Homo sapiens: one gene and its partners. The protein of the gene in region 1 interacts with the protein of each later gene in a biochemical or structural test. Each region holds a gene or a part of one and is shown in the gene's direction. Other genes may lie near its edges.

Evidence for each region.
Region 2: of the proteins of MAP2K4 (region 1) and MAP3K11, one has a biochemical effect on the other in vitro, tested with the Homo sapiens proteins (one study listed by BioGRID).
Region 3: of the proteins of MAP2K4 (region 1) and MAP3K10, one has a biochemical effect on the other in vitro, tested with the Homo sapiens proteins (one study listed by BioGRID).
Region 4: the proteins of MAP2K4 (region 1) and ARRB1 interact in a test that uses a peptide from one of them, tested with the Homo sapiens proteins (one study listed by BioGRID and IntAct).

What each region holds. Positions count from the first base shown.
Region 1 is NC_000017.11:12,023,877-12,030,906, forward strand, and holds part of MAP2K4 (dual specificity mitogen-activated protein kinase kinase 4), read left to right. Parts: intron 1-7,030. UniProt on the Homo sapiens protein: Dual specificity protein kinase which acts as an essential component of the MAP kinase signal transduction pathway. Essential component of the stress-activated protein kinase/c-Jun N-terminal kinase (SAP/JNK) signaling pathway.
Region 2 is NC_000011.10:65,597,234-65,604,228, reverse strand, and holds the end of MAP3K11 (mitogen-activated protein kinase kinase kinase 11), read left to right. Parts: intron 1-4,460; coding exon 4,461-4,835; intron 4,836-5,600; coding exon 5,601-5,938; 3' UTR 5,939-6,472; downstream 6,473-6,995. UniProt on the Homo sapiens protein: Activates the JUN N-terminal pathway. Required for serum-stimulated cell proliferation and for mitogen and cytokine activation of MAPK14 (p38), MAPK3 (ERK) and MAPK8 (JNK1) through phosphorylation and activation of MAP2K4/MKK4 and MAP2K7/MKK7.
Region 3 is NC_000019.10:40,186,859-40,194,433, forward strand, and holds the start of MAP3K10 (mitogen-activated protein kinase kinase kinase 10), read left to right. Parts: upstream 1-4,567; 5' UTR 4,568-5,173; coding exon 5,174-5,855; intron 5,856-7,575. UniProt on the Homo sapiens protein: Activates the JUN N-terminal pathway.
Region 4 is NC_000011.10:75,259,613-75,264,682, reverse strand, and holds the end of ARRB1 (beta-arrestin-1), read left to right. Parts: 3' UTR 1-4,561; downstream 4,562-5,070. UniProt on the Homo sapiens protein: Functions in regulating agonist-mediated G-protein coupled receptor (GPCR) signaling by mediating both receptor desensitization and resensitization processes.

The sequences.
Region 1 (7,030 bases):
TGAGAATGCATGTAAGCCTGGGACCTGACATGTAGTAAGGATGCAATACACATTAGCCATCATTGTTAGTAGCGACAATATTGTTATGGTCTCATTAATGGTCCCTTTTACTATTGGTAAATGAGTCCCTAACCTCTCATTATTTACCACACAATTTCTTTAGTTCATATTACTAGGTCCCACTGTTCTCTCTAACCTGTTGATTTCCCCACTTTTCATTATTGAGCAGTCCTTTCAGAGTATCCTAGATGAGATTTTATTCTACTTCAAACTCCGGATCTGTTTTTTTCTGGATCTGAGGACTCTCAAATGAATTACAATGTGAACGATATGAAACAGAAGTCTAGCTATCAATTTGCTCTACTCATTTTTTTCATAGGGGATGGGTAGATGGTTGGAATGGGATTTATAGTGAATTTGATTATAAGAGTAATCAACAGACGTAGCTTTGGTTGCATGTTTATGCTAACAGTTATGGCTTCTAATCTGGCCATTTTTGCCACTGTCCCTCAGATAATAGGGAATAGCTGCTAATTTTGTTATTACTCAAAAGATTTGAGTGTCTTCACTCATTCTGACTCATTTTTTTTTCATGTTCATTCACAAACACACCCAACCTTTATACGTTGAGTAGTTCTTAGGCTTTGGTTCTTTGATGACTAAAGCTAACAAAATGTAGATCTGTTTGCCAAGTTAGGTAAGTGGTTTTATGAAAGTATATTTGGCATTAGGATGAGTTTGCATTTGAGAGAGGAAACAATACTCAAATTAACTACTCTGAGAAATGTTTTTATTCTTAATGTTTCATCAATAATTTGTTAATGTAGATAGATTTAATAGGAAAATTTCTTGCATATTAGGGCCTCATTCTGTGGAAAAGTATTATTCTTTAGTCCAAGAAATTTTAGCCAACCTAAAGTACGGAATTGACTTGTAGCATTCAAGAACCTTCCTAGCCATGGCTAGGGCTTTCCCTTGTGGCAAATCTAAAGCCTCGTGACTTTAGCTGGGTTAGTGTGAATCCTGTAAAGAGAAGATCCCGTTATACCAGGTAATTAATCTTAGATATGTATAGCAAATAGTACTAGATAGTATGGTTGGCATGTTAGAGAATAGCATATTCTGATTAATAGAGCTTGCCAGTTGAGAATTCAACAGCTTCTATAATGAAATTGCATAGGCAGGATGATTCCTTTTCCAGTAGTAGCTGTAGCAGCTAGCGTTCCCATAGCATGTAGTAATGTTTAAGAAACAAAAGGATGTTGAAGTGTAAAGAGCACTGGACTTAGACTCAGAAAACCATGGTTAAGGTAACTGCTCTGCTGTTTACAAACACTGAGATTTTAGGGAAATTCCCTAACTTTTCTCAACTCTCTGTTCAGAAATTTCTCATCTGTTAAAATAGGGATAATGCCTAACCTGTAGGGCCATTGTAAGAATCACATTCTTAATGCATGTGAAAGTGCTTTGAAAATTATAGAATATCTATAAGTATATACAGATTGTTATTAGACATGATTATTTGCCTGCTGTAGCTACTAATCACTTAAAATGTAATAGATTTCAAAGATCGCTTAGCTGAGAAATGTCAGTTTTCAATAGATGTTTTCTTAAAATGGTTAGAATAGAATCTATAATTGATTCAGAAAAACATTGAGCCATTTGTAAAATACTTGTTACAAGAAATAGTTAGAAAGTATATGTTGTAGGTGCCTCTGATTCTCTTAAAGTTCTGATTTACAGAAAACTTTGTGACCAGTCGAGTCCTTAGCTATTTACCCTTAGCTGAGCATTTTTATGTATCAGTTTAAGTAGAAAGATGATAGCTTGATTCTGCTTTAGAAAACACGCCCAGTACTTTAAAATGTAATGAAGTATATCTGTTAAGAAAAAGTCAAGAGATTTAAAATCAATGTAGTTATTTCTCCCAAAAATATTTGAATATAAAATGTATATGAAATGTCCTGCTTTTGATTTTGTTTATCTGTTTTTACTAATTAGTCTGGTTTTCGAGAACCATGGGAGACCTTTATCTTAATTTTAAAGAACTGATTTGTGCAGACAGTGAAGAGTTTCAAACCCCAGAACTGCTTGCCCTTCCCAGTGTGTTGCATAACATTTCTTTTACTGTTTAACATAACCTCATACAAGTTCACCTCAGCAAATTAGTCCCCCCTCAAAGCTCAGACTGCATTTCTTCTTATGTTCCCTTAAAAATTAGAGCAACCCTAGTATTAAAGTAAAAAAGTGGAAAAACATCTCACCTCACTTTTAGAATACATATTTTCTCACATTTTCCTTTAAAATACCTTACTAGCCTGAATGTGTGCTGAAACTTGTTTAAGATGGGATATTAGTTAACCCTGTATTTTGAGTCGTTTTCTTTTTTCGTAAATTTTTCTTCTTTCACTAATTTGAGAAGCTGGATTGATGTGAGCCCATAGAGTTTCCTTATTTTTAGGGGTCTGGATATCATAATCCTAACTCCATTCTACATAATCGAGGTCAGTCTCCTTTGTAGTCTCTAGGAAGTGCAGATGGCTCCAATGATACAACCTGAGAAACTTTAATTGAGGCTTAAAAAAGAAAGGGAAAGTAACAGTTAACAACTTTTTTCACTGTTCCTACCTAATTTGATGCTCACAACCACCCTTTAAAGGTAAGTGGACATAGTCCCCTTCATAGATGAGGGGGTAGACGTTTATTTGTTCCGGAAGAGGTAGGTTTTAACCACCTGGGTGACTGGTAGCCTTTGCTCCTCTTACTACTCTACTGCATGGTTCTCTGAGCCTCTTTAAGTCATTTCGGCCATTCAGGTCTGAAGGAAGCATCTTTGCCAGAAGTGATGCAGATTCAGGAATGGAGGAGAGAGATTATTTTAGGTTTCAGTCAGGGGGCGGAAGCTCCAAGCAACCAGCCACCTTTTGAGATGATTTTGGAGCCTTGGTGCTCCAAGAATGGTGCACTTCATGTTACAATGTTCTAAACTTGCTGGAGGGTTTACAGTGGCATTTTGAATCTGGAGACATTTCGATTGGGAATCTCCAAGTAAGTAGAAGACTTTAATTAGAGGAAACCATTGCAGATTTGAAAGGTAATAGAATCCTTTTAACACTATATATAAAAGGAACTCATTTGTCATAAAATTTAACAAATGTTGTCGTTCTGGCTAAATTTGTAATCTGGGCAAATTACTATTTTTGCTAGTGGATGTGGGTTAGCTTCTAGCTGTTTCCTCCCAACTCTAGAAAATCTTCAGGTGTCTCTTCATGCTCGGTAAGGTTGGGAGTTTAATGTGTACTTAAATTAATAGAAAGTATTCAAGTCGTAAGACTGGCCTTGCTTGTAGCTACACAGTGAAAGGGAGATGATTAGCCAGTAGTTTACACAACTCAAGGTGGGCCTTTTGAATGAAGAAAACAATTACATTGTATGCAGCTTGGTTCTTTAAGAACAACACATTATTCTCCACCACGGAGAAAGAGGATTAAAATGGACATCACAGCAGCTTTTTCGAGCTATATTGTATTTCATTTTACCCAAAATTGCTCAAACATTGAAAAACGAGGAATCAAGAAAAGTGTTGCCAGACATATATATCTGAACATACACACACACACACAGACACCAAATTGTTCAAACATTTAAAAAAAGAGGAATCAAGCAAAGTGTTACCAGACATATATATCTGAGATATATATATGTCAGATGTATATATATCTGACATGCCTATGTCTATTTATTGCCTGGCTTTGCTGAAGAAATCAGTGACATTAAGGAGCTCCCCTGATGATTTTGGCAGTTTCCCTGGGATCTGGTTATGTGCCTGTCATGGGGAAGCATCCATCTTTTTGGGGTTGTTAGAGTCCTCAGGATACCAGGCTGTGCCTAGGAAGGGTTGTGGCAGAGGTGTAGAGGGTGGGGTGTGGATCTCCAGGGCTGTTTGGAGTCCTTCCCTTTTAATTCTCTCAAGGTGACTGTGAATGAAAGGAGAAAGACTGGTTTTGTGTAGGTTAAGCTGGTCTGGTGAGCACCAGAAAGATAGGGAAGGTGCCATAATCGTTGCTCCCATGAGGGAGAGAACAGGAATAATAGTGCCTGTGATAATAATAACCTGCTTTAGTCCAGGCTTTTGGTTGGACATTTTAGATATATTTTCCCATTTAATCATCACAAAGCTCTTTTGGGTATTATTTTATTTTTCACAAATGAGGAAATTGAGGCTCATAGAAGTTAGATACTTGCCCGAAGGAACATAATTGTAAGTTACTGTCTCAGTGTACTGTGCTTCATTAAACAGGCTTGAGAAGGTAATGTGGCATTTAATTTTGTGGCCAAAGAATAAATAAGGTGGTCATTGCCCAAAGAGAGAAAAAGAGCTGGCATTATGAGGACACTTGAATTTAAAAAGTGTGGAAGGGATTTGATGAGTATTTTATCAACTCCTGACTGGTGGATGATTCTAACAACCTGGAATTGCTAACTTAGGGTGGCTCCCTTTTGATAGTTTCAGAAAGTTGACATAAGGAAATCTGAAAGAAATAAACCATCAGGAAATAAATCTTGGGGAACTTGCTCTGAGTACAATGAAAATACAAATTTAGGGTAGGTTTAGATAACGCCTTACATGTTAGAGCCATAATGATATACTATGGGTAGCTGTGGTTTAAGGCACATGCCAGAATTTTGAAGTTGGAAGTTTGAAGGTGTCAGACAAATAGACCCTTCATGCTTGTGACAGAGGAAAGACTTTGTAGCACGGTCTTATGGGCATGACCCAGTAAGGCAGCTCTGATTTTCTTTACATTAGTGTGGGTTCATATTGTAGTTCATAATGCACTTTCAGCAGTGCAAAAATCCAGAATGTCCAGGGAATCAGAAGCAACTACTGAGGAGATAGGAAACCACTTATGTCCGGCCCCACACCCTCTCTGATTTATATTATCAACCTAGAGGAATGGGAATGGAGATAACTACAAAACCTCATAATGGCCATTACACAAGCAAAATTAGATTTAGGCACACTGTTTTCAAACCCTTAAGATAATATTCTTTATTTAAAAATGACAAAACTAGGACTCAAGTGAAATGACTTCAGTTTCACAGTTGGAACTAGAACTCTGGTCTCCTAACACACTTCATTTTGTTTTTTACTTTATCGAACACCATTTGCTTTTTGTTTTTATAAACACTTACACATCCTAAACAGCCGCTTACCTCACTGTATTTGGTAAGAACAGTAAATTGTAGGTTTCAAGTTATGGCCACATAAAAGATCTTAAAATTGAGGTAAGAGGGTGAGAATGAGGGGCAAATGTGGGAACGAGGGTAGGAGATACGTAGAGAGAAAAAGGAGGAGGAAAAACCCTCATGTAGCTTTATTTCTTTTATAGGCTTACTAGCATTCTGTCCTATGCATTTTGATATTGATTCATCAGTGTCAAGAATTAAGAATTTAAATTCTTAAATAAATATTATTCTTGATATTTATTCTAAGATTTAATTAAACTTGCCTGGGGCCAGGAAAAATGAAAAAGACTCAAATTTACCCCTACTTGTAATGGGGAAAATATAAATGGAGGATCATGTCAAATTAAGCCCCAGGGTACAGATAGTTCACCCAGATATAAAAAAGTGAGGCACACACGACTTAAAATGTAACCAGTTAACTATCAACAGGTTCAACGGATTATCTAGTACCTCCAGAGATAGGACTTAAAGTAAGTGAATAGGAAGTCAGAATTTCGGAGACAAGGGAGACTTCAAAAATTGAACATATTGGCCAGGTGAGATGGCTCATGCCTATAATCCCATAACTTTGGGAGGCTGAGGCAGGAGGATTGTTTGAGACTAGCCTGGGCAACATGTTGGGACTCCATCTCTACAAAAACAAAAAACAAAAAACTCCAAAAGTTAGCCAGACATAGTGGCTTGCACCTGCTGAGATGAGAGGATTGCTTGAGCCCAGGAGTTTGAGGCTGCAGTGAGCTATGATCATGCCACTGCACTCCAGCATGAGCGACAGCAAGACCCTGTCTCTAAAAAAAAAAAAGAAAAAAAGAAAAATTGAACATATGTGAGTGAATACTAGTGAATATTATATCATAACTAAGAACTTGCATTTTGTAAAGTTGAGGATATTGGAAGTTTTCCTCATTTTTCCTTCCCACCATCTTTCTCTTGTGCAAGACTGTTGCTTGTCCCCTTTGCCCATCCTTACCCTTTGAGTATGAGCTAGTGGAGCTATTTGGTACTTTCCCAAATCTGCACTATAAGCACTAACTTTCTGACTTTTGCAGGTCTTAAAGATTTAGACAGACTAACTAAAAACGCTTCTTCCCTAATTTAATAATGTTAAGAAAGTTACAGAATTGCTAAAGAAAAGGTGAGCCAGTGTGTTCCAGTTAATTTAGACCTTGCTTGTCAGTGGACTCTGGGCGAGTTACCAAGTATTTTCTTAGTGAGAAATAATGTGGAGAGATGGATGTTTGGATGAGACCCCAGAATTCGTTCACCTGGTCACTTCATAATTAGATACAAAGAACAAGTCTATACTTATGCTTTGAACATTTTAATCCCCTTCCCACCTCCTTTGTAGCTACTTATATAGATTCTGTACTGGTGACAGAATTTCAGGTTTTGAGAATTTTTTAACACTTAAACTGGCGCTTAGCTTTTAATGTGTTAGAGCAATCATTGGCGACATTCTGTCATTCTCAGTCACATATACCTTAAAATTTTTAATATATTATACACTTATTAAGCAATGTAACTTTTTTTAACACAACCTTACATATAGATCCAACTGATTTCTTTTTCATATACCTTACAAATTTGTTTTCTTGCTCCTTTCGCCATCCATATTACTATTTTGTTCACCTCTTCTCTCTCCTTTTCACCTCTTTCTTTTTGCTACCTAGTAACAGTCAATCAGGGTATTTTGCTTTAAAGTTGTTTGTTTCCCAGCCTCCTCTCCAGTTGTAGTAGAAGGTGAGTTTTACCTTCCCTTTTCCAGTGGGATGCGGGGAAG
Region 2 (6,995 bases), on another chromosome or scaffold:
TCTCAAGCTTGCCCCATGTTTTTTTATCCAAAGAATTTGTTAATTATTTATGAAGAGAAACTACTTATTAGCCCATATATTCATGAATAGTTCAGATCAGTGACAAACTTCTAAGTAATTCAACCCAAAGAAATTCTTCATATTCCAAAATCACTTTGCATTCTGAGAGATAGCAGCCTTCCTCATCTCCTCGAAGTATTTCATGGCATCATAACTTCTGTAGACATCTGTGCCCATAGAAATCTGAAATGCCTTCTTTCTTGGTCCAGCCCCTGCAAACTGAGAGAGCCGCAGCCCCCAGGGATACAGTGAATGCTCCCACAATATGAAATTGCAGATGTGTGGCCAGAAGGCCACATGTCTGAGGTTTCATGAAAGCACTGGAAACCATGGTAGTTACTGTTCTTGATAAGTATGTCGGCCTCAACACCAGTGCCCTTCCTGGCTGATGAAGAAATGGATTGCCACTTGCCCTGAAAGGATGTCAGCTGCCCAGCTCAGTGGCTGGCTGAGCATCTGGTTCCCCTAGCCCAATCCCACACTCCACGCATCATCTGGGTCCATGAAAGTACATGACATTGACCTCACAGCCACCCCCCGAAACCCAGCTAAGAATCAAATAATGGGGCTTCACAGAGGTCCCAGACCCTGTGAGATGGTCCCCGGCATAAGCCATACCACTGGAGAGTCACACACACCCTCACCCTGTCCCCAGTGGGCTGTTCTGGTCCCTGGAGAGCTGGCTGCAAGGAGTGGCACATTGGCAGGGTGCACTCAGCTACGCTGATAGCAACTGCCCTGTGAAGCTTGTTGCCTTAGAGCCAATAACTACGTGGCTGTGTCCTCCCTGTGAGACCTCACGGAAGCAGTTTCGCCTCTATCTATCTATCTTTGGGTCAAGAATAGTCACGCAGCTTTCTCCTAAACAACAGAGTTGCTAACTCTTGCTGCCAGGAAGCTTAGAGGCAGATTCAAATCCTAGCTGGATTATGTTGACCAAGTCCCTTACCCTTCAGAACCTCAGTTTCTCAGGCCATTGACTGCAGGAACTTCTGTTCACTCTCATTTTGTCTGCTGGACCCTATCTTCTCTTCCCTTTGTCTCATTTCTGTCTTTTATTTTTTTAAAGATAGAGTCTCATTCTGTTACCCAGGCTGGACTGCAATGGCATGATCATGGCTCACTGCAAACTCTGCCTCCCAGGCTCAAGTGATCCTCCCACCTCAGCTTCCTGAGTAGCAGGGACTACAGGTGCATGCCATGCTTGGCTAATTTTTATATTTTTTGTAGAGATGGGGTTTTGCCATGTTGCCCAGGCTGGGCTGCGCTTAAGTAGTCCACCCACCCCAGCCTCCCAAAGTGCTGGCATTACAGGTGTGAGCCACCACACCCAGCTTGCTCTTGCTATTTTCTTTTTTTTTTTTTAGAAGGAGTCTTGTTCTGTCACCCAGGCTGGAGTGCAGTGGTGCGACCTCAGCTCACTTCAGCCTCCACCTCCCACGTTCAAGCAATTCTCCCTCAGCCTCCCCAGTAGCTGGGATTACAGGCATGTGCCACCATGCCCAGCTAATTTTTTTTTTTTTGAGATGAAGTGTCATTCTGTTGCCCAGGCTGGAGGGCAGTGGTGCAATCTCGGCTCACTACAACCTCCACCTCCCAGGTTCAAGTGATTCTCCTGCCTCAGCCTCCCAAGTAGCAGGGATTACAGGCATGTGCCACAATGCCCGGCTAATGTTTGTATTTGTAGTAGAGATGAGGTTTCACCATGTTGACCAGGCTGGTCCCGAACTCCTGACCTCAAGTGAGCCACCTGCTTCAGCTTCCCAAAGTGCTGGGATTACAAGCGTGAACCACCATGCCCGGCCTAATTTTTGTATTTAGTAGAGACAGGGTTTGACCATGTTGGCCAGGCTAGTCATGCACTCCTGACCTCAAGTGATCTGCCCTACTTGGCCTCCCAAAGTGCTGGGATTATAGGCTTGAGCCACCACTCCCAGCCTCTCTTGCTTTTTTTTTTTTTTTTTTTGAGATGGAGTCTCACTCTGTCACCCAGGCTGGAGCGCAGTGGCGGGATCTCGGCTCACTGTAACCTCCGCCTCCTGGGTTCAAGCGATTCTCCTGCCTCAGCCTCCCAAGTAGCTGAGACTACAGGTGCGTGCCACCATGCCCTGCTAATTTTTGTATTTTTTAGTAGAGACAGGGTTTCACCATGTTGGCCAGGATGGTCTCGATTTCTTGACCTCGTGATCCGCCCACCTTGGCCTCCCAAAGTGCTGGGATTACAGGTGTGAGCCACCGCACCCGGCCAACTCTTTCTTTTTTTTAAACATGATTTCCCCTCTTCTGTTTAAACTCACTGTAAATGATCAGTTCTTCACCTGCGAAGTGGGGGTGATATGATAACCTCGTGGTTGGTGCAAGGATTATAAAAATGGATTCTTCATCAAACAAGAATTTGCTTTTTTTTTTTTTTGAGACGGAGTCTCGCTCTGTTGCCCAGGCTGGAGTGCAGTGGTGTGATTTTGGCTCACTGCAAGCTCCGCCTCCTGGGTTCATGCCATTCTCCTGCCTCAGCCTCTTGAGTATCTGGGACTACAGGCGCCCACCACCACGCCTGGCTAATTTTTTGTGTTTTTAGTAGAGACAGGGTTTCACCGTGTTAGCCAGGATGGTCTCGATCTCCTGACCTCGTGATCATCCCACCTGGGCCTCCCAAAGTGCTGGGATTGCAGATGTGAGCCACCGCGCCTGGCCCAGGGATTTGCATTTTAAGAGCCAGGCATCAACATGTTAAACACTGCCCTGACCTCATATGATGAAGCAGGCAGACTCATAAACAAGTCCAGTAGCACCTCTATGAGGCATAACGTGAGCAATAACTGTGTAGGTTCAGGGAGATTCTGGGAGGGCTTCACAGAGGAAGTGACATCCCAGTTGGTCTTGGATGGTGCATAAGAGGTCACTGAAAGCCAAGGTGGGAAAGGTCAGCCACCCAGAGTGAATAGTGTGTGCGCAGGCATGCAGCTCACCATACCCAAGGAAAAGGCAACCTGGCTGAACTCCGAGAAGAGTTGAGAGCCGAGGAGTCTCAGGACTGGGGCTGCGGACAGGGGCCAAGGCACATGGGTCAGTAGATGTTGATTGAATGAATGAGTGAATGAAGCTGGAAGTGATGGGTAGTTTTTAAGCAGAGACCTGTCTTTAACAGGTTTGCATTTTAGAAGGATTCCCTTGTCCCTTCAGTGGCAGTGGCCGGGGTGGGAGTTGGGTGAGGTAAGAGGCAGAGAGTCTGAGTAAGGGTTGGGGCTGACAGAAGGGACTGTGAGCTAAGTCCTGGTTCATAGTAGAAGCTCATTTTTCCCAGCCTTGTATTTCTCCCTCCCGACATCCAACCTGCTGCTGCACTCCAGGCAGGAGGGGAAAGGCAGAGGGACAAGGCCAGGGAGGGCTTCAGAGGACCAGCCAAGGAGGCCAGACTTTCTCCTAGTGACAGTGGAGAGCCACAGCAGTTTCTAGAGCCAAGGAGGGATCTGACAAAATCAGGGCTTGTGAGAGCCCATCCTAGAGTCCCTTGTCCTTAATGAGGGGTTCCCCATCCCTGCCCAAGTGGTCTAGAATGGAGTCAGGCCAACCCTAGACTGGAAGGTAGGACACTAGTGTCTTGAAATCTAGGGCAGAGTCTGGCTGGGAAATGGTGGAGAGCAAAGGTTCTACTGCCCTTGCCTGGGGTGAGGCCGGCTCCACCTTTCACTGGCTGTACAGCTCCGCACAAGCCCTCAACCTCTCTGAGCCTGGAACCCCTGGGGCATGAGAATCAGACAACATAATGCCCCTATGCCATTCAGCTCAGGCCTGGCACAAATACATACTCTGTAAATTAGCTGTGACCTTGGGCAAGGTACTGACCCCTCTGAACCTCATTTTCCTCCTTTCTAGAATAGAGACAGGGATTTATGCCCTCAGGGCTGCCATGTACCTTAGAGTTGACTGTGTGCATCTTATAAGCTACAGCTGGAGCGGGGGTGGGTGGGCAGAAGGGGCAGGGCTGCCAAGCCAGGAAGCTGGTGGGCACAGAGCACAGGGCGCCGGTCCCAGTCAGTGGGACCTGCCATGCCCCTGGGCCTGGAGGTTGCCCCTGGCAGGCCACAGAGGCCCACTGTGACCTGGCCCCAGCCTGCCTCCACTGGGACTGCCCATCCATCTTTCGGGTCTGGGGTCGCTGGCTGCCATTGGGCTTTGCTGCCGCTTCCTCCACCTGCACTGCCCTCCCCTCCCAGTGCCCATCTTGTGAAAGGCCAGAATGTGGGTATGTGATGGGGAGGCCATGGGACCTGTGGGACCAGGGAAGATGCTAGTAGAGGGCAGAACTCAGTCCTTGTTCCAAGACCACGGAGAGGTCTTGGGCCCTCACCCGGAATATGCACCAGCCACACCCTCACCTGTGCCGCCTCTGCCCGCAGGTAACCCCCCGCGGCCTAGCCTGGAGCCCGAGGAGCCCAAGAGGCCTGTCCCCGCAGAGCGCGGTAGCAGCTCTGGGACGCCCAAGCTGATCCAGCGGGCGCTGCTGCGCGGCACCGCCCTGCTCGCCTCGCTGGGCCTTGGCCGCGACCTGCAGCCGCCGGGAGGCCCAGGACGCGAGCGCGGGGAGTCCCCGACAACACCCCCCACGCCAACGCCCGCGCCCTGCCCGACCGAGCCGCCCCCTTCCCCGCTCATCTGCTTCTCGCTCAAGACGCCCGACTCCCCGCCCACTCCTGCACCCCTGTTGCTGGACCTGGGTATCCCTGTGGGCCAGCGGTCAGCCAAGAGCCCCCGACGTGAGGAGGAGCCCCGCGGTGAGTGGCCTGAAGCCGGCCTGCTTCACATATGGGAGACGGGGGTTCCCAGGGAGGGAGGAGTGGCTGGTGGGGACATGCAAGGAGGCAAGGCCGAGACCACAGTCATCAGCTGGACCCTGAACCAGGCATTCGGGGTACTGAAGACGCATGTAGGGAGCAGAGTTCTAAGTTCAGCTATCAGGTGGTCCAGGCAGGTGGGGGCGATGCCTGCTGTGAAATAAAAGAAGTAATCGGGCCAGGCAGTGGTGCACGCCTGTGATCCCAGCACTCTGGGAGGATCACGTGAGCCTTGAAAGGTTGAGGCTGCAGTGAGCGGTGATCATGACACTGGACTCCAGCCTGGGCGACACAGCATACATGTAATCATAATCGTAGCAAACTCCTGGCTCCTTACTTGTGCCAAGTACTGTTTGCAAGGCTTTCCCGAGATGGTCTCATTTAGTCATAACAACCAGAGAACTAAGCGCTCCTGGATGCCCATTTTTAGATGAGGAAATTTAAGGCACAGAGATTAAGGGACCCACAGCTCCCACAGCTAGTAAGTGGCAGGGCCGGGATCCACATCCAGGCCAGCCTGCTGCAGAGGCCTCACTCCTAACTATTACAAAAAACAGAGGCACCACGGAGCAGGAAGGGCGGTGGAAGTTGAGTCAAGTAGGTCACTGTGCACATGGGGAAACTGAGGCCCAGAGCAGGACAGTGTCTTGGGGACCTCAGCAGTTGGGGGTTGCTTGACCCTGTGCCCCTCCTATATCCTCACAGGAGGCACTGTCTCACCCCCACCGGGGACATCACGCTCTGCTCCTGGCACCCCAGGCACCCCACGTTCACCACCCCTGGGCCTCATCAGCCGACCTCGGCCCTCGCCCCTTCGCAGCCGCATTGATCCCTGGAGCTTTGTGTCAGCTGGGCCACGGCCTTCTCCCCTGCCATCACCACAGCCTGCACCCCGCCGAGCACCCTGGACCTTGTTCCCGGACTCAGACCCCTTCTGGGACTCCCCACCTGCCAACCCCTTCCAGGGGGGCCCCCAGGACTGCAGGGCACAGACCAAAGACATGGGTGCCCAGGCCCCGTGGGTGCCGGAAGCGGGGCCTTGAGTGGGCCAGGCCACTCCCCCGAGCTCCAGCTGCCTTAGGAGGAGTCACAGCATACACTGGAACAGGAGCTGGGTCAGCCTCTGCAGCTGCCTCAGTTTCCCCAGGGACCCCACCCCCCTTTGGGGGTCAGGAACACTACACTGCACAGGAAGCCTTCACACTGGAAGGGGGACCTGCGCCCCCACATCTGAAACCTGTAGGTCCCCCCAGCTCACCTGCCCTACTGGGGCCCAACACTGTACCCAGCTGGTTGGGAGGACCAGAGCCTGTCTCAGGGAATTGCCTGCTGGGGTGATGCAGGGAGGAGGGGAGGTGCAGGGAAGAGGGGCCGGCCTCAGCTGTCACCAGCACTTTTGACCAAGTCCTGCTACTGCGGCCCCTGCCCTAGGGCTTAGAGCATGGACCTCCTGCCCTGGGGGTCATCTGGGGCCAGGGCTCTCTGGATGCCTTCCTGCTGCCCCAGCCAGGGTTGGAGTCTTAGCCTCGGGATCCAGTGAAGCCAGAAGCCAAATAAACTCAAAAGCTGTCTCCCCACATGTAGCCTGTCACCTTTCTTGGAGGTAACCAGGTGACCCAACCTATCATACAACCCTGGTGTCCTGATGCCCCAACAATAGGCAGTTGGATGCCTTGTACTGCATGCCTCTCCTGGGACCAAATCCACCAGCCTTGGTCAGTCATTCAAGGCTCTTCTCGGCCAGGTGCAGTGGCTCACTCCTGTCATCACAGCAGTTTGGGAGGCCGAGGCCGGCGGATCACATGAGGTCAGGAGTTCAACCTGGCCACATGGTGAAACCCCATCTCTACTAAAAATACAAAAATTAGCCAGGTGTGGTGGTGCATGCCTGTAGTCCCAGCTACTCTGGAGGCTGAGGCAGGAGAATTGCTTGAACCTGGAAGGTGGAGGTTGCAGTGAGCCAAAATCACGCCACTGCACTCCAGCCTGGGCAACAGAGCAAGACTCCGTCTCAAAAAAAAAAAAAACAAAAAACCATAGGCCGGGCATGGTGGCTCACGCCTGTAATCCCAGCACTTTGGGAGGCCGAGACGGACAGAT
Region 3 (7,575 bases), on another chromosome or scaffold:
ATCAGTTATGCAAGATGAATAAGTTCTAGAGATCTAATGTACAATGACACGACTATCGTTAATAAGATTTTATTGTATACTTGAAATTTGTTATAAGGGTAGGTCTTAAGTGTTCTCACCACAAAAAAAAAAAAAAGCTCCCCAACTCATTGAATAGGGCTAGCATTCCGCCAATGTCAAAACTAGGCAAGAATAACACCAGAAAATTCCATTTATGAAAACAAATGCAGGCCAGGCACAGTGGCTCATGCCTGTAATCCCAGCACCTTGGGAGGCCAAGGCAGGTGGATTCCTTGAGGCCAGGATTTGGAGACCACTCCGGCCAACATGGCAAAACCCCATGTCTACTAAAAATGTAACAATTAGCTGGGCACAGTGGCATGCGCCTATAGTCTCAGCTCTGGAGGCTGAGGTGGGAGAATCGCTTGAACCCAGGAGGTGGGTGAGCTGAGATATCACCACTGCACTATAGCCTGGATGACACAGCAAGGCTGTCTCAAAAAAAAAAAAAAAAGAAAAGAAAAGAAAAGAAATGCAAAACAACCCTAAATAAAGTATTATTAAATCAAATCCAGCAATGGTGAAAGCAAGAAAGAGGAGATAATCAACATTAATGGATTAAAGGCAGAAAAACCATCTGATTGCATAAATAAATGCATAAAAAGCATTTGATAAAATGTAACACCTGCATTTAAAAAAGAAAGAAAGAAAGAAAGAAAGAAAAATCTCTAGCAAGTTAGGAATAGAACCTGATAAAGGACTTCTACTAGAAATCTACTGAAAGCATCATATTTAATGATGAAACCTTAGGATCATTCCCTTAAATGTCTAGGACAAGACAAGAATTGTCCATTAATACCACTGCCATTCAACATTGTATTGGAACTCCTAGCCAAAGAGGAGAGGATTAAGAAAAAAAGCATAGACATCAGATTTTTTAAAGCTGTAATTTTTTTCTTTTTTCTGGACAACAGGATCATCTAGCTAGAAAATCGAAGAGAATTATCTGTCAAGCTATTCTAGAACAAGCAAGAGTGAGTTCAACAAGGCAGCCAAATCCAAGATAATTTTTTTTCTTTTTTTTTTTGAGATGGAGTCTCACTCTGTCACCAGGCTGGAGTGCAGTGGCGCAATCTCGGCTCACTGCAACCTCTGCCACCCGGTTCAAGCGATTCCCCTGCCTCAGCCTCCCGAGCAGCTGGGATTACAGGTGACTGCCACCATGCCCTGACTAAATTTGTATTTTTAGTAGAGACAGGGTTTCACCATGTTGGCCAGGCTGGTCTTGAACTCCTGACCTTGTGATCCACCCGCCTTGGCCTCCCAAAGTGCTGGGATTACAGGCGTGAGCCACCGCACCGGGCCCAGAGACAACCTGTTCTGCAGCCCATTTGCTTCTTCCAGAGTCTCCCTCTGTCGTCCGGGCTAGAGTACACTGGCTCGATCTCGGCTCACTGCAACCTCCGCCTCCCAGGTTCAAGCGATTCTCCTGCCTCAGCCTCCTGAGTAGCTGAGATTACAGGCACCTGCCACCACGCCTGGCTAATTTTTGTATTTTTAGTAGAGATGAGGTTTCACCATGTTGTCCAGGCTGGTCTCAAACTCCTGACCTCAGGTGATTTGCCTGCCTCAGCCTCCCAAAGTGCTGCGATTACAGGTGTGTGAGCCACCGCCCCCACCCTCTATTTGCTTCTTTGAGATGAATCACCCCATAAATGATTGGTAAACAGAGTAATGATGTCAGCATAACACAAGCATGTTGGTTAACATGCAATTTTCTCCAGGAAGTTAACATTTTGAAGCAATCAGGGCCAAGCTTTCTCACAGTTAAAGGGGAAGCCTTAGTACTAAAAGAAGATCTTCAGAGGAAAAAGCTGCAAATCTACAGAAGTGTCTTCCTTTGGATCCACGGTGGCTGGTTTAGTGACTTCAAAGACCACCATATTTGTCACAGTGTTATGCCTATGGCAAATCCATGAATGCAGATGAAGAAATTGCAAATATATTTCTCCCATATTAAAATAACAGATTAATGAAAAAGATCACACCTTGGATCACATTTCGAGTTTTGATGAAAATGATCCCCATCAATAGTTAATATCTCCAACCAGCATCCCCAAAGAGGAAGCATAAGCCCCACCTTCAAGGCTGCAAAGTGCTGCTGAAAGCAAATGCTCATGGAAATTTACCTATTCTAGTGTTTCTATTAGCATCATTATTGGTTTTGTAGCACTCTGAATATAAAGTTGTATACAAGAGGCCGGGCATGGTGCCTCACACCTGTAATCCCAGCACTTTGAGAGGCCAAGGCGGGCGGATCACGAGGTCAGGAGATCGAGACTATCCTGGCCAACATGGTGAAACCCTGTCTCTACTAAAAATACAAAAATTAGCTGGGCATGGTGGCGCCCACCTGTAATTCCAACTACTCGGAAGGCTGAAGCAGGAGAATCACTTGAACCAGGGAGTCGGAGGTTGTGGTATGCCAAGACCGTGCCACTGCACTCCAGCCTGGCAACAGAGTGAGACTCCATCTCAAAAAAAAAAAAAGTTGTATACAGGTTTTTATTTTTACTTTTTTTTTTTTGAGTCAGGGTCTCGCTCTGTCTCTCAGGCTGGAGTGCAGTCAGTGCCACAATCACAGCTCACAGTAGCCTCGACCTCCTGGGCTCAGGTAATACCCCTATACCTCAGTCTCCCGAGTAGCTGGGAACACAGGTGCACACCACCACACCCGCCTAATTTTTTATTTTTTTGTAGAGACGGAGTCTCCCTATGTTGCCCAGGCTAGTCTGAAACTCCTGGACTCCAGTAATTCTCCCTCCTCGGCCTCTGAAAGTGCTGGGATTACAGGCATGAGCCACCGTGCCCAGCTAGTTGCATATATTTTGAGCAATCTGTCTCTAACTCTATTTTTTCCATGAAGTCTTGTTAATTTTAGTGCACCGTTTTGAAGAACTGAAGGTTTTTTAAGAATGCATATAGCAGGTTATAGCAGAAACACTTATACTCAGAATGAAGCTGGGGCTCTCTCTTCCAACAAGCATTTTTGATATGCTCCGAGTGTCCCTGCTAGGTAGCCAGGAGACCAGGTAACCCACTTCCCTCTGACAATGGAACAATTCCCCAAGGACCCTGAGGGGCAGTTCTCTGGAGTTTGGGCACTAGAGTCCCTCTTATTTCCTCTTCTTCTCTCCTCCCTCTAGACCCCATACCACTCAGGAGAGGCCAAGTAAAAAGACCCAGAATTTTGCCTCTTACAAGCTTAGAGATCTTGAAGAAGTCACTGAACCTCTGCGGGACCTACTTTCCTCATTCTTTAAATAGAAAGGCAGTGGGTTTTTTGTTTGTTTGTTTTTTGTTGTTTTTTTTTTTGTTGTTGTTGTTTTTGTTAATCGTGGCGATGGTTATTTATTTATTTATTTATTTTGAGACGGAGTCTTGCCCTGTCGTCCAGGCTGGAGTGCTGTGGCGTGATCTTGGCTCACTGCAACCTCCACCTCCCAGGTTCAAGCGATTCTCCTGCCTCAGCCTCCCGAGTAGCTGGGATAGATTACAGGCGCACACCACCACGCCCGGCTAATTTTTTTTTTTTTTTTTAAATAGTAGAGACGGGGGTTTCACCATGCTGGCCAGGCTGGTCACGAACTCCTGGCCTCGTGATCCGCCCGCCTTGGCCTCCCATAGCGCTGAGATTACAGGCGTGAGCCACCGCGCCCGGCCTGGTTGTTAATTTTTAAAACTGCCTTTCATTTTTGCTTTGCCATTTATAGCTCTGTAGCCTTGCACAAATGACTTCACTTCTCTATGAGTCATCTGTAAAATGGGGCTCTTTGTGAAGACTTAACGATACCACGTGTACAAAGCACTGAATACAACATGCACATTAAGCTCCCCGAAATTGAAACTCCTATAAAATAGGAATCGGGGATTCTCAAGAGCAGGAGTTCTGACTTCAGCAGAGGAACCCAGAGCTGGTGGGGAAAGCAGACGTGGCTGTGACATCCCCAGGGACACTAAACACATCCTCCCAGCCCCATCTTCCCCGCAGAGTCCCGCCACCGGCCCGACCCCTAACTTGCTCCAACCACCCGCCGACGCCCGCAGCCCGCTGTTTGGGGGCCGCCCCCTGCAGCGCCAGGTCCCCGCGCGGACTACAGTTCCCAGCGTACATCTCGGTCGGGGGGTCCGAGGGGCCGTCCTGCCTCAGGGATAAGGTCCAGGCTGCGTTCGCGGCTCCGGGCAGTCACAGTCATGCACGCAGCTCCTATTTTTCGCGTTGCTAATCGCGTCCGTTGCAGTCCAACCCATCCTGGGCCGCGGCCCCCACAGGGTCTGTGAGGAGCGCTTCCCCCCGCCCCGGGCGCCCGCTACGCCGCGTCCGAAGGAGGGGCCGAGGCCGGGCTCATCTCCCCGGGAGGACTCCTTCGGCTTCGTGGGGTGTCATGTCCATTGCGGCCCGAGGCTGGCCGCGGGGCTCTGCTGGAGGGCGCTGAGAGCCGGGCCCCGAGGCCGCACGGCCGGAGACTACAACTCCCAGGAGGCACCGCGGCGGCGGCGCCCACACGTCACTCGGGCCCCGCCGGTGGCCCGGGGAAGCAGCACGGGCGGGGGGCAGGGGCTGGGGCCGACCGGGAGGCCGGTGCCAAGGATGGGGGCCGCCCGGCTGCCCCGCGCGTGAGGAGGCCGAGGGGCGCGCCACCCCGGCCCGGGGCGGCCGCCCCAGGGGCCCCGCCACCCCCGCCCGGCCCGGCAGTCGTGGCCCGGGATGCGGAGCCGGGGGCCGCCGGTGGAGCTGCGCGGGGTGAGCGGCGCGGGGAACGGGGACTGCCTGCCGCCCTCGCCCTCGTCCCCCACCGGCGGACCCCGGCGGGCATTCGAGAGCCGCGCGGCCAGGCCCTCTTAGCCCTCTGCCGTTTGGGGGGCACGGGTGAACCTGCCGCCCCACTCCCACCCCGCCCCGCCCCGCCCGTACAGCCAAATCGGAAGGGACGAGCCTGCCCTTTGAAAGGGTTTTTTTTCTTGCTCCTGCGGAGGGCGCCCCAGCCATGGCCCTCAGGAGCTCCCTAGACCCCGCAGGGACTGCCCTCCATCCCGGCCGCCGGGGCCCGCCCTCTGCATCCCGCGGGCAGCCTGTGTGAAGCGGCCTCCCGCAGCCCCCGGCCCCTCCCCCATGGAGGAGGAGGAGGGGGCGGTGGCCAAGGAGTGGGGCACGACCCCCGCGGGGCCCGTCTGGACCGCGGTGTTCGACTACGAGGCGGCGGGCGACGAGGAGCTGACCCTGCGGAGGGGCGATCGCGTCCAGGTGCTTTCCCAAGACTGTGCGGTGTCCGGCGACGAGGGCTGGTGGACCGGGCAGCTCCCCAGCGGCCGCGTGGGCGTCTTCCCCAGCAACTACGTGGCCCCCGGCGCCCCCGCTGCACCCGCGGGCCTCCAGCTGCCCCAGGAGATCCCCTTCCACGAGCTGCAGCTAGAGGAGATCATCGGTGTGGGGGGCTTTGGCAAGGTCTATCGGGCCCTGTGGCGTGGCGAGGAGGTGGCAGTCAAGGCCGCCCGGCTGGACCCTGAGAAGGACCCGGCAGTGACAGCGGAGCAGGTGTGCCAGGAAGCCCGGCTCTTTGGAGCCCTGCAGCACCCCAACATAATTGCCCTTAGGGGCGCCTGCCTCAACCCCCCACACCTCTGCCTAGTGATGGAGTATGCCCGGGGTGGTGCACTGAGCAGGGTGCTGGCAGGTCGCCGGGTGCCACCTCACGTGCTGGTCAACTGGGCTGTGCAGGTGGCCCGGGGCATGAACTACCTACACAATGATGCCCCTGTGCCCATCATCCACCGGGACCTCAAGTCCATCAACAGTAAGTGGTGTCCTCTCCCCAAAATTCCTTCCACAGAACCTCTCAAGGCCAGGCCTAGGTGGTGGGAAACAGGGTGAGGGACACCAGATGACACTGTGCCTGGAGTGAGAAGGGGCAGCAGTATGATACCTTCAGGGTGAAGGTGAGGTAGGCCTTGCCTGCCTTAAGGGAGAAAAAGGAGGCTCAGAAAGGTTGAAGGACTTACCTGCCTCCCAGGCTGCAGAGTCACAATCGCTCAGTAAACATGTATCCATGAACACCTGCGTTCCCTGCATGAACAGGACAGATGCAGTGCCTGCCTTCAAGGTGCTTGCCATCCAGCCATGCTGCCAGAGTCCACCAGGCAGAGACAAAAAGAGCCTACCCCGTCTGGAGTCAGTGTCTCTCAACCCCAGCACTATTGGCACTTGAGGCCAGATCATTGTTGTAGGGGCTGTCCTGTAAATTGTGAGTTGCTTAGCGGCATCTTTAGCCTCTTCCCACTAGATGTCATTAGCATTCCCTGCCCCCTCTCCCCAGCTATGACAACCAAAAGTGTCTCCAGGCATTGCAAATGTCCCCTGGGGGGCAGAATCACCCCCAGTTGAGAACCATTTCCTGGAGTCTTCATAGGCCGAGCTGGCCAAGGCAAACTGGAAAAGATGAGGGAGGAATTAAATTGATGTGGCTTATATAAAAGCTTCCAGGCTGCCTGATAGGTTCTCCAAAGTTGATTGGTTGGTTGAATAAATAATGGAGCCAGGTAGAAGGGAACATTCTGCAAGACTCATTTCTAGATGGAAGAGCTTCATGTGGTGTCAACAAGTATTAATTGAGCACCTATTAAGCAGGAGCCCAGCTGGGAGTAAGACAGCCATGGTTTCTGCCCTGACAGTACTCACAGGCTAGCAATTTCATTCATTCATTCCACAGATATTTCCAGAGTGCTGTGTGCCAGACCCTGTCCCAGGGATACAGCAAGAAAAAAAAAATCTTACATTCCTGGCTCTCCCATTCGTGCTGTGCCCCATCTCACTCCCTTTCATTTCTTCATTCATTTGTTCATTCTTCCATTTGGTATTTACCAGGCCAGATCATGTGCTAAGCAAAGGCATCAGCAGTGGAGAAGGCCAGCATGTCCCCGGCCCTCACGTCACTCACAGTTAAGCCCCAAAATGTGAAGGTGCCCCCTTTGCTCTCAACACCCACATCTCATCTATTCCTGATTTCTGTCACTTCTACATCTTGAAATTTATTTTAATCCATCCCACTATTTTTAGGAATATATTGCTATTCCCCACCCATAGCAATTGTAAGCCCCTAGAATAGAGGGACTGCATCTTCCTTGCCTCCCAAGCCTGACATTTGTATATCAACAGAGAGCTTGGCTGGGCGCGGTGGCTCACGCCTGTAATCCCAGCACTTTGGGAGGCCGACGTGGGTGCATCACCCGAGGTCAGGAGTTCGAGACCAGCCTGACCAATATGGTGAAACCCCTTCTCTACTAAAAATACAAAAATTAGCTGGGCATGGTGGCATGCATCTGTAATCCCAGCTACTCAGGCTGAGGCAGAAGAATCGCTTGAAACCAGGAGGTGGAGGTTGCAGTGAGCCGAGATTGCACCACTGCACTCCAGCCTGGGTGACAGAGCAAGATTCCATCGCAAAAAAAAAAAGCTAACATGTGACCACGATGTGCCAGAGCTGGTGCTGTGTCTGGGGAACTGATGCTTATGCCCCA
Region 4 (5,070 bases), on another chromosome or scaffold:
TCTGGTGGGTAGAGCCAGAGCTGCTGACTGGTCTCTCTGCCTCCAGAGGGGATTTATTGGACCTCAGAGGTGGCAGGGCCCTATGGAGCACCAACTGCCCTCAACCCCACCCTGTGCCCAAGACTGGGAAGGGATTGATGTCAGGCTGTGGCCATAGGTAGCATGAGTTGCCCAAGGAGGGACAGAGCATATCTTTGCTGAGGCTTGGCTGAGGGGCTTATGATAGGGCTTGCAGTACCTCACAGCCCCCTGTGGGCACAGACACCCTGAGGTTTACCCAGGCAAATATATTGATTAGCAGGACAAGGGCTCTCTCCTCAGTTTCTGCTCCCTTCCATCTCTCTCCCATACTTGTCTGAAAAGGGAGACAAAAAATCTTATACAAGTGGCATCTCAATCCTTTCCAGTCCAGCACCTCCTGGGGCAGGCAGTGTGACTTATTTCCTGTGGTGAAATCACCTGTTTCACAAGCCTGGCAGCGCGACTTCTGAGTCTCATGACCACTCAACCCAAGGGACCCCTCCCCAGACCAGAACCAAGTCAGCTGGGGGCTGTCGTACTACCCTGTCCAGTCTTGAGGGCCTAGTTGCAGGTCCCCCAGGCATCCAGCCCCTCCTAGAGCTTGCTGGGCAGGCTGCACCTCATCTGGGCAGGCGCAGAGCTGATGAAATGCTGGAGCAATGCATGGCAAACATATGCCCTCCAGTGTCTTCTGAAACCTTTGGGGCTGACACAAGATCCTTTAGTGTTTGGGATGACCTCTTTCCTGCAGACTTCTTCCCCTATCCCTAACTCATGCATGGAAAACGTTTGTCAGGCTGGTTTCCCGAGCCTCCTGCACCTCAACATCACGCTCACCCTTTTGGGTTTAGCCCAGTGTTATTTAGCAAATTTCTCCAGCTGCAGGGAAGGATCAGAGCACTATCTTTTTTTTTTTTTTTTCTCCTGGAGCCAGGACTGCACAAGGCAATGGCCAAATTTAGTTGAATTCAGCCTACCATCCTTTGCTGATGACTCAGCTCTATGCCAAGTACTGGAGCCACAGAGATGGGTCAGTCCCAGCCCCTGTCCTCAGGAAGCCCATGGTCAGGGAAACGTTGTAGGGATAAGTAATAGAGGGCAGTTGCCTTCAGGGCTCCTGGTGGCTGCTGGTCCCTATGGTGCCTTGATGTGAATTAGAAGACGGTGCCCTTTCCAGGTGGATTCAGACCTACACTAGAACGCACAGCTTTGGGAGTGACACACAGGTTGGATTTTAGCACCCCTTGCCCCTTGGCCAGAGGTGCCCTGCTGCACGGCCATACGCTGCAGCCTCGAGGGACACACAGGCCAAAGTGTTTCCTTCAGCCTCTTCCTGGAGAGGAAGCCGCAGGTCATGTTTCCAAGCTTCTGGTCAACTCCAGGCACCACCTCCCAGCCCCCAAACATGGCCGAGCCAGTGCTTCTCTGCAGGGCCCCTTTCCTTTCTGGAGTCAGCCTGCCCAGGTGATACCTTGAAGTGAAACTAGGGGTGGGGGAGCCTCACTAGGCCCCAGGCACCATCCCACAGTACTGGCGGTTTCTCTGCCAAGTGTTTGGGGCCTGCACTGGCCAAGCCATCCGTCACTGGGACTTTGCAGTGTGCCCTGTGGGTGGCGTGTGGACACCGGTCCGGGCAGGAAGGAAAAGCATGCCCCGGTGAAAACCCACCGAGCAGAGAGCCAGCGGGACCTCCTCAGCATTCCACCCAGGGGAAGAGTTCAGTCCCCATGAAGATAAGGACTGAGTTATTTGGCTGCACCTCTCCTCAGCCTCAAAGCTCAGACCTGCTAGAGTGGGTTCACCTGGCTGTTGGTTCTGTGGGAGAGTTCCTGACAAGCTGGTTCCTACATGGTGCAGTGAAAGGAACTCTGTCCTGGAAGTCCCCAATGCCGCCTCTCAGTCCTGCCTGTCACCAACCACCTGGGGGGCTTGGGCAAGCTACTCAACCTCTGGGGCTCAATTTCCCTAACTGTAAAATGGGATTGTAATCCCTTCCCTGCCTGACGCAGGAATTGTTATGAGGCCCAGATGAGATGAAAGTCAGCGGTCAGGGCTCTGTAAGTTGAAAATGGCTGGATGTGTGTGGCCCTGCCACTGCAGGGATGGCCCAAGGTCACACAGAAAGTTTGCTGCAGGAGGAGCCCTCCCCACCAGTCTTCATCGCTTGCCCTGCTTCTCACTTAGGCAGATGTCAACCAGAATGAGATACAGCCAATTTGGCTTTGATGACCCAGCTGAGAGGGAAATTTAGATACAATTCAGGAATATCATGCCCAAAAATAGTGGTCCCAGCAACCAGGACACAGAGGGAAGACCTGGATATTGTCAGTGATTGGTGGAGGGGGACATCTTGGACCCTCCTAGGCCTGGTGTCACATCTCCCATCTCTCAGACCCCACAGAGGCCAAGGGGCCTTGGCTCTGACCCAGGTTAAAGAGAGCCACCAGCCCCCAGGCTCAGGGAGCTGAAACCACCCATCCGCAGAAATCTAAGGGCAAGGAGAAATAGAAATTGTCTGTTCCTTCCCTTCAAAGTGTAAGGCCTCTTCCAGGAGCAACTGGAGCCACCACAGCTTCTCAGTGACATTGGGAGGGCTTCGGGCCCAGGAAAAACCCAAGCCTTTTGTCCTGAGAGCCGAGCCACAGCGGATGCAGTGGCGTCAGCATCCCAGAGCGGCAGCTTCTCTCCTGCCTGTCACTGGGGACTGGTTGCTCTCCACCCATCCAGGAGGAAGGGGTTAGGTCCCAGTCTTACACTCTTATAGGGTCTCATGGACATAGGCCTATGCCTGTTCTGATATCTATAATTTTTTAAACTCAAAAGGACCAAAACACTCCTGAACCCTCATCTATACGGCCTGCACTGGGCTTGGTGTTTCCTCCTGGCCCAGGCAGCTCCATCTCTTCTGCCATTCCTCCTGGACGAAAGTGGCAGGACCCCACCTCTACCACTTCCCCACAGGGTCACTGCACAGCGGCTTCAAAGACACGCCCTGTTGAAGGGGAAACATCCTCCCCCCATCACACTCCAACTCGTCACCCCAAAAGGGAAGTCAAAGCACAGGTCCGTGGGGCCTATGGTTTGTAGACACTGACACAGTGGTTTTCAAACCAGGTGCTGCGGAACCCCTGATATTCCACAGAGCTTTGTCAGGGGATGCTAAAGTGGGAAGATGGGAGTGGAGGCAAAGGATAGGTTTCCAGCCCTCCTCCCATTTCCGCCGCCACCAGAATAACTCTGCTTTTATCTGTCTTGCCTACTGAGATTTCATTTTCAAGCTTTCTTTGAAGAAGAACTTCAAACCACCATCTCGAGGTTTGATCTTAGACCAGCCAGCACAGGTTCTATTCTTGCTGTTCATGTTGGAATGGCTCCAGCGTTCCAGTACAAAGTGTCTTTGTGTTGGAACTTGGGTCACAGACCCAGGCACAAGCATTTATACACACACACACACACACACACACACACACACACACACACGTACATAGTTGATGGTTTTTCTAGCCAACCCACCCTGAAGCTCTGGCCAAGGTTTGATTTGGACAGGGACCTGGTGCTCAGTGGGGATGGGTCGTGACCCTGATATTGGCCCATGAAGCATGGGGAGCTCTGGAGCAAGGAAACAGGCTCAATCCCCCACTGAGGACTTGTGTCTGCACCCCTATCTGGCACCCCACTTTCCTGGCCTAGGCCCAAGGGACACAGCAGGAGAAGCAGTGTGATAGGAGAGAGGCTAGGGTTAAATTCATCTTTACACAGCGCCGGATGGATGGAAATCTTGGCTCACATAAAAGACAGACTCAGGGAGGATTTTATGACAAAAGTCCCTCCTTTGAGGGCAGGATTCCCCCAGGAATCCTGGACACTTTAGTGAGAACTGGACCAGCCCTTGGCACAAAACCCTGCCTGCCCTGTCCCCCACTCCCACCCCCCAGGGAATTCTAGGTGAAAATGTGAAGCTCAGGGCACAGCAAGCGCATGACACGGGTGTATTACATTCGGTCCGAGTGTGTCCTTAGTTTCCCTGTGTGCAAAATGGGGCTAGTCCAGGCTCTTCCCACCTCACTGGGACAATTGCAAGGGTCATAGGAGAGGTGGGTATGATAGGTGGTCATATGAGGTGGTGAGTATGAGAGGTGGGTGCCTCACAAACTCGGGGTATGGTCCTGACCTGCATGGCAGATGAGCAGAGCACTTGGGAACGAGCATAGGAAGTGCCATCTTCCCGGGCATCTCTGCTCAGTGTTAAGGTCTAGCCACAGACACTGTGGGACCTGCCTCTTCCTATGGAATGGGGGCCTGCATGGGTTGTGTCCTGGGGCAGGAGTGAGGGATGGCTGGGAAGAATCTCCAGGTCTGTGGCCCTTGTGTTGAGTGATTATTTTGTGACACTCTCATTCCTGGACCACCTGCCAGGTTTATCTGTTATACCTGTGGCATTCTTATTATGTCAGACAAGTTATTATAGTTCATTCAACTCTAACAAATGAACAAAAGAACAATAAATAGGAGGCCATTAAAGGTCTTTTGTGGCAGAGGATGCTGGCTGTGCTTTCATTTCTGTCTCATAAGCCCATGGCAGGTCAAAGACCAAGAAATGCCTCCCTGCTGCCCTGGACTGGCAGATGGGGCTCATGACTGGGTGAGGTGCTCTCTTCCCTTGTCTGTGGCCCCAGCTCCAGCCTGGTCCTTGTACCAACTTCTGGAGACTGCCAAAAACTTTTCTCCTGTCCCTCTTCTGCCACTTTTCAGCCTTATGGCCTTGGGAAGCTGGCATACCTCTCATCCCTCTCAGATACCACAGGATTTTGTGACCCATGGTTTGCTCCTGGGGTGAAGCCATCCTATCTTCTATCTTTGGCACCACTGACCACATCAGTGGGAGTCCTCACCCCAGCCCCAGCCCTGGTTCTTGTTCACTTCTTATCTCCTGCCCTGCTGGGTCTTCCTGAAGTCACTTCAGTTTTCAAAGACTTATGTGCCACCTGGTCTAACAGAACATATGGGAGGAGTAAGGATATCAGTGAGGAAGAGTCGATGTTCTAATAG